Homo sapiens: one gene and its partner. The protein of the gene in region 2 purifies or fractionates together with the protein of the main gene of each other region. This does not show direct contact. Each region holds a gene or a part of one and is shown on either strand. Other genes may lie near its edges.

The links. The genes of interacting proteins can lie anywhere in the genome.
Region 1: the proteins of TMCC2 (region 2) and MARK3 purify together in Homo sapiens (affinity purification with mass spectrometry; 2 studies listed by BioGRID and IntAct, with this or other methods). This does not show direct contact.

The regions. Positions count from the first base shown.
Region 1 is NC_000014.9:103,486,349-103,489,998, reverse strand, and holds part of MARK3 (MAP/microtubule affinity-regulating kinase 3), read right to left. Parts: intron 1-3,650. UniProt on the Homo sapiens protein: Serine/threonine-protein kinase. Involved in the specific phosphorylation of microtubule-associated proteins for MAP2 and MAP4. Phosphorylates the microtubule-associated protein MAPT/TAU. Phosphorylates CDC25C on 'Ser-216'.
Region 2 is NC_000001.11:205,265,930-205,269,579, reverse strand, and holds part of TMCC2 (transmembrane and coiled-coil domains protein 2), read right to left. Parts: intron 631-3,650; coding exon 1-630.

The sequences.
Region 1 (3,650 bases), on a different chromosome or scaffold from region 2:
CTAATCAAAGGACATTTACTCCAAGATAAAAAACAGTCAGCAGAGCCCCCTTCTCCAAGATGGGCAAATTCATCAGAGCAAATTAACTGTTAACAGACATGGTAAGATAGAGTGGCTGGAAGTCTGCAGTTTCATCTAACACACACAGTTACCGGACAAAACTACCCCCAGGAGTCTCACTGGGACACATTATTTGGAATTCCAGCTCAGTAATCATGTCCTTGGAATTCAAGGGCAGTTTCTTTCCTTTAAGGATAAGTAGGAATACAGCTCTTCCAGTGTCTTTCTGCAGAAATCCTTTGGAAGGATTAAAACCTGGAAACTGGCAAGTTCTTCCTTTCCCTCACTCCCCATACACAGACTAACGACATCTTATTGGTGTCAACTTCCTAGTAGCTCTTCAGGTGGCCCATCTGCTCCACTTCTACCAGGGCCTCAGTATAGAGCCTCGCTCCTTGTCTTCACTGGGTCCCCTGCCTTTGCCCCAACACCTCCAATCTATTCACCTTACAGCTGAGAACTTCTTAACATATAAACCAGATCTTGTCACTCATCTGCTCATACTTCTACAGAACACCAAGTCTTTGGTAAAAAGTTCAGTCTCCTCGACTTGGAGTGCAAGTACACATCCCCAGGCCCCTGAAGTCTGGCCCCTGCCATCTCTCTAGGCTTTGCCTTCTATCATTCCCTCCTGGAACTCAACTTTCTAGCCTTCCTGATGATGTGTGGTCCATTGGTCAGGCACCAGGTCAGAAAATGTTTGCAGGAGTTATTCTCTTGGTATGGAGGGCTGGGATCTTTCTATTCACTCTTCAAAAATGAACCAGATGTCGTCATCTCTATGAAGTGTTATCTGATCCATTTTCCCTCTGAGAGTTAAATCACTTCTGTTTTTAGCTCATGCATGCCACATTGTATCCTAGTGACCCTTCTCTGCTGGAGGTCCCTGAAAACACAGCCCAAAATCTTGTCAATGTGCCCCCCACCAGTGTAAGCAGAAAGCCTGGCAGGGCAGGTATTCAACAAACGTTCTCCTAACAGAGCAGATTAATCAATTAGCAACTGGAATTCTGATAGCCCCAACATAAAGCAGATACGTCTTTAAAATCAAGAACTGCTTGTCCCTGAATTAAAACATTTTTATTTAAATTTTTATTTTTGGAGACAGGGTCTTGCTGTATTCACCCAGGCTAGAGTGCAGTGGCACTATCACAGCTTGCTGCAGCCTCAACCTCCTGGGGTCAAGCGATCCTCCTATCTCAGCCACAGGAGTGTGCCACTATGCCTGGCTAATTTTTAAATTTTTTGTAGAGATGGTGTCTCACTATGATGGCTAGGCTGGTCTTGAACTCCTGGGTTCAACTGATCCTTCTGCCTCAGCCTCCCAAAGTGCTGGGATTATAGGCCTTGTGAGCCACTGTGCCTGGTTCTGTCCCTGCATTTTTGTTTGAGAATTCTGCTCTCTGACTTGGGAGAATTTATACAGTCTGAGAAGGACTGGAAACAAATGTCTTATAAAGGCAAAAATTTATCCAGTTTCGTATTTCTGCCACTCAGTATCCATTCTTTTCCTGCAGCAACAATAATGAGATTTTGCTGTGGTGGAAGTAACTCTAGGCCCCACACAGATCAAGGAGACCACCTGAGGGCTTCTGCTTGAGCACAGCTGTGTGTGGGAAGAAGTTATGTCTGATGGTGCCGAGCCCAATCATGGAACTACGGCCAAGGAGGCAGAAGCAGATGGACCGTAACTCTAGCCCTGGACTTTTTTTAGTTATATGAACTAACAGCCCTTTTATATTTAAGCCTGTTTAGACTGGGTTTTCTGTCACCTGCAACAGAGACAGTTCTAACTGACTAAGGTTTTTAAAGAAATGCTCGGTTGTTTCTTGTACATGTGTACAGACACACGTACACATGAATGCACACAAATGTTATTTATTTTTTTTTTTTTGAGACGGAGTCTCACTCTGTCGCCCAGGCTGGAGTGCAGTGTGATCTCTGCTCACTGCAAGCTCTGCCTCCTGGGTTCACGCCATTCTCCTGCCTCAGTCTCCCAAGTAGCTGGGACTACAGGCACCCACCACCACGCCCGGCTAATTTTTTGTATTTTTCGTAGAGACGGGATTTCACCATGTTAGCCAGGGTGGTCTTGAACTCCTGACCTCGTGATCCACCCGGCTCAGCCTCCCAAAGTGCTGGGATTACAGGTGTGAGCCACCGCGCCTGGCTACACAAATGTATTTTTCTAACAAGATACAGCTAAATACAACTATCTCTTGTGCCCTTACCTTTCAGGGTGAGTCCAGGGTCAACACACTCTACCTCCAGTTGTTGACTTTTTTCTTGCCCAAATTAGGAGCTAGTATCAGTAGATGTGCCAAGAAAAGCAGGGGAAGAAGATGCAGGAGTTGTTTGACCCTTTCCCTGGTGAATACAAATGGTCCCAAAGTCTTTGGAGAAGGAAAAGGCTTTTAGTCAGCTTGCAGGCAGGAGGGTGCTGCATCGATTCCCAATGAAGCACACTGCTGACAGGCCAAGCTAGATCTTTAAGGCATACAAGCATGGTAAGAGGGTGTGGACAGATGCTTTGCAGAAAAAAAATGGATCCTCTAGAGACCTAAGAAGGAAATGTAAATTTATTTTCTCATTATAAATTAAAAAAAAAAATTTTGTAGAGATAGGGTTTCGTCATGGCCCAGGCTGGTCTGGAACTCCTGAGCTTAGGCAATCCGCCCGTCTTGGCCTCCCAAAGTGCTGGGATTATAAATTATTAACTTGAGGCTGGGCGTGGTGGCCCACGCCTGTAATCCCAGCACTTTGGGAGGCTGAGGCGGGTGGATTGCTTGAGGCCAGGAGTTCCAGACCAGCCTGGCCAACATGGCAAAAACCCATCACTACTAAAAATACAAAAATTAGTTGGGTGTGGTGGCGGGCCCCTGTAATCCTAGCTACTCAGGAGGCTGAGGTATAAGAATCGTTTAAACCCGGGGGTGGTAGCTGCAGTGAGCTGAGATCATGCCACTAAACTCCAGTCTGGGTGACAGAGAGAGACTGTTTCAAATTAAAATAAATAAATAAATAAATAAATAAACTTTTTGACATACTAATTTTAAAGGCAATTAAATAAACTTTTTAGAAATTTAATCCATGTCACATCATGAGTTTCACAAAGCAAGCAACAAAATATTTCCGATTTTTCTGATTTCTACAGTAGGCCTAACACCCAGAAGGAAACAGTAAACTCAGTAAGATGTTTGCAAATTTCAATTTTGTACAATCAAGCTCACAAAAATCCTATTTACAACAGGCAGCCCCAACATCACAATGGTCTACATATATATTCTAAAAGGTCATCAAGCTAATTGTTATGAAATTCGAATAATATTTCCCCCCAGAAAAGTGTTAAAAATGATAGTTTTATTTCCTATTCTAGCCCACAATCTACATAAGCAAAACAGTAGCAGCATTACATTTTTTTAATAATTAAAAAATTTTTTTAAAGTTTTTGTGGGTTCATAGTAGCTGTATTACATTAATTTTTTTATTTTTATTTTTTTGAGACTGGGTCTGGCTCTACCGTCCAGGCTGGAATACAATGGTGTGATCTCGGCTCACTACAACCTCCATCTCCCAGGCTCAAACCATCC
Region 2 (3,650 bases):
CCGGGCTGCCTCCTCAGGGGGCCCATCTTCCAGGGGGTCCTTCAGGTGGGCGATGTTGTCAGCACTGCCAAACTTGTTGCGGATGAGGCTGGCAAACTCCCGGGGCTTGGACACCACGGCGGTGTGGGTGGCCTGTGAGAGGCCAGAGAGGCTGCCCTTGACGCCCTCCACCACGCCGCCCCCAAAGCCGCTGATGCCTGCGCGCACGTTGGCGCCCACGTCCTTCAGCCCCTGCTGCATGTCCCGCAGCACGTCCTTGGGCTGCCGCGAGGGCCCGTTCTGCTCAATCTCCTTCAGGCGCCGGCGGTAGTGCTCCAGCTTCTTGTGCAGCTGGGCGATGGTCTGGGCTGACTTCTGGTTCTTCTTCTCGAACACTTGCTTGATGCGTGACACCTGCTGCTTGTCCGCGTTGTTGGCCAGTTTCAGATACTCTGCCACATTGTCGTCGCGAGCCTCCTGCTCAATCTTGATCTGCTCGGTGATCTTCAGGATCTTCTGGTGCAGGTGGTCAATGGCGGCCTTGGTCCGCTGGGGGTCCGGTGCCCCATCGGGCACGTCCAGGCTGATGGGGCCGTCGGTGTCACCATGGCCGGCGGGGAGGCTCAGGGCCACCAGGTCTCCCTTATCGACCTGGGGAAAGAGGCAGGCAGAGGAAGCATGGGTAAACCCTGGGACCATAGGAGTGCCCCTGGATGCCTCTGGACTTGGTTTTTCTATCTAGAAAATGGATGCAGGAGTCCAAAAGAAGACAACCACCACAAGAGCAGTATCCCTGACAGCCACTTACACAGGGCTTTCACATCTGCTCTCTACCCCGTCCCCACAGCATCCCCAAAATGCAGTCTAGGCAGAGCTGCTCCTCTTTTGGCCCAGAAAGGTCAAACAAGTTGTTCAGGGACACACGGCCAGGAAGGGACAGAACCTCCAGCCCAGAACTCTTTTATTTATTTGTTTGTTTATCTATTTGAGACACAGTCTCGCTCTGTTGCCCAGGCTGGACTGCAGTAGCGTAATCTCAGCTCACTGCACCTTCCACCTCCCTGGTTCAAGGGATTCTCCTGCCTCTGCCTCCCGAGAAGCCAGTATTACAGGCACCCACCACCATGCCTGGCTAATTTTTGTATTTTCAGTAGAGATGGGGTTTCACCGTGTTGGCCAGGCTGGTCTCGAACTCCTGACCTCAAGTGATCTGCCTGCCTTGGCCTCCCAAAGTGCTGGGATTACAGGTGTGAGCCACTACGCCTGGCCCCAGCCCAGAGCTCTTAAAGCTCCAGCACATGGACCAGGCAGGTCTGAGGCCTCACTGGAGTCATGGGGTTGGATTTCTGAGGAATGAGACAAATTTTCTCTCTGGACTCAACCACTTCATAAGGCTCCTGCCTTGAGCAGGCCTCTCCCTCAGGGCTGACCGCCTACACTTTGTGCCCTGCCTGCCTGCCCTCGCCACCCCATGTTCACTAACAACGCAGCTCAGCGGGCCACCCTGCCTCTGCTGACACCTCTCCCAGGCCCTCCATTACCTTACGGCTCTCCAGAGTCATTGGTAACCTTTTCCGCTTCATAATGGTGGAAGCCCCCAGTCCTTCCTAGTATCCGAGAATTGGGAGAGGAGCATGCCCCACCCCCACCCTGCTGGCCAGGTCCCCGAGGACTAAAGCCCCAGAAGTAACTCAAAGGCCAAGGGAAGCAGGGACCAGTTTGGGGGCCTGAGGCTACTAGCCGCCCAGCTTTGCAGAGGGTGAATGCGTAGGAAGGAAATGACAGCCCCCTTCACTCCCCACCAGGCGGGCAGGCTTCCCGAGTGCATCAGGGTGGCACCAAAGTCGGAGAGACAAGGAAAGGAGAAGAGAGACTAAGAAAGGATGATGGGGAGGGAGAGAAAGGAGGAAAAGGTCACAGGAGATAGGAAAGATGGGAAATGTAAGGTGGGCTGAAAGCGGGGAGGCCTGAGACCTGCTCCCCTGGTGCCTGGTTCCTCTCAGCCTGTTGGAGGATCTTTCTGTCCACAGCTGAGTCCCCAGTGTCTTATCGCCATACAACAACGGAAGCAGCAGGAAATGGCTCAACCCCATGTATTTTTACACACAGCACACCCCAAGCAAGGCTGGGTCAGATCATTTGCCCTTAGTATGTATGGGAGGGGGCAGGGGTGTGGTCAGATATATGTGGGGGAAGGGGTTAAACACAAAGATAGTGGCCCAGTCACATGCACCAGAACTGGAAACAGTCCCTGCCAATTACAGGCATAAGTCACTTGGCTTGATTCTGCCAAGGTGCAAAGTTATTGGAAAACACGATTGAAAATAATAGCCCTGCCAAACTCAGGAGCCAGGGGAGGGCGGCTCCTCTGTGGGCTTCCACTGGGGCTTTTCCAGGTTACACTTCCCCCTGGGGATGCTGTGGACAACCACAACCCCATCCCTAATCACTCCTGAAGTCAGGACTTCCCTCTTATGTTTGCTTTGGGTCTCCCCTCATCCCCCCTTGACCTCCCAGCAGGTGCTCATACCTTCAGGACTCTGCTTCTCAGAATTTCTGACCTTTCATACCCACAGTCTCCCTTAAGTGATCTGCTCCAAGGTCTTAACTGTCCCAGTAGCCTGACTTAAAACCCTAACCTGCAATTAGGCTGCTTCTTCCTGCCTTGTTCCCTGCAGTGACAGCAAAAAGCCCATCTCTCCATTTTCCTGACCTTCAGTGTCCTCGCCGACAAAAAGCGGGTAATCACAGCTACTCTCAGGTCTTTTGTGAGAGCTATACAAGATGACGTCTGGCAAGCTGGCATAGTGCGAAGCATACAGAAGGTGCTCATTAAACGCTGAATCTGAATCTAGGCAGCGTAATCCCTTTTTTCCCCTGGGAGAAAAAATGCCTGCAATCAAGCTGGCCTAAATTTATTTCAGAAATTATACCAACAAATTTACTCTGTATTGCTAGAACTACACAAAATTAACGGTTTTTTTTTTTTTATTTGTTTTTTGTTTTTTTTTGGAGACGGGGTCTCTGTCGCCCAGGCTGGAATGCAGTGGGGCCATCTCAGCTCACTGCAACCTATGCCTCCTGGGTTCAAGTGATTCTCCTGCCTCAGCTTCCTGAGTAGCTGGGATTACAGGCATGAGCCGCCACGCCCGGCTAATTTTTTTGTATTTTTAGTAGAAATGGAGTTTCGCCATGTTGGCCAGACTGCTCTTCAACTCCTCATCTCAGGGGATCCACCCGCCTCAGCCTCCCAAAGTGCTGGGATTACAAGCATGAGTCACCGCGCCCGGCCCAAAATTATGTTTTATAGGCAACACATGGCCTTTGATGTTACAGAACTTTTTTTTTTTTTTTTTTTTTGAGACAGAGTCTCGCTCTGTCGCCCAGGCTGCAGTGCAGTGGCGCAATCTTGGCTCACTGCAAGCTCCGCCTCCGGGGTTCACGCCATTCTCCTGCCTCGGCCTCCCGAGTAGCTGGGACTACAGGCGCCTGCCACCATGCCCGGCTAATTTTTTGTATTTTTAGTAGAGATGGGGTTTCACCGTGTTAGCCAGGATGGTCGCGATCTCCTGACCTCATGATCCGCCCGCCTCAGCCTCCCAAAGTGCTGGGATTACAGGCTTGAGCCACCACGCCCAGCCCAGAACCTGTCTCTCTTATAAAGCTGCTGC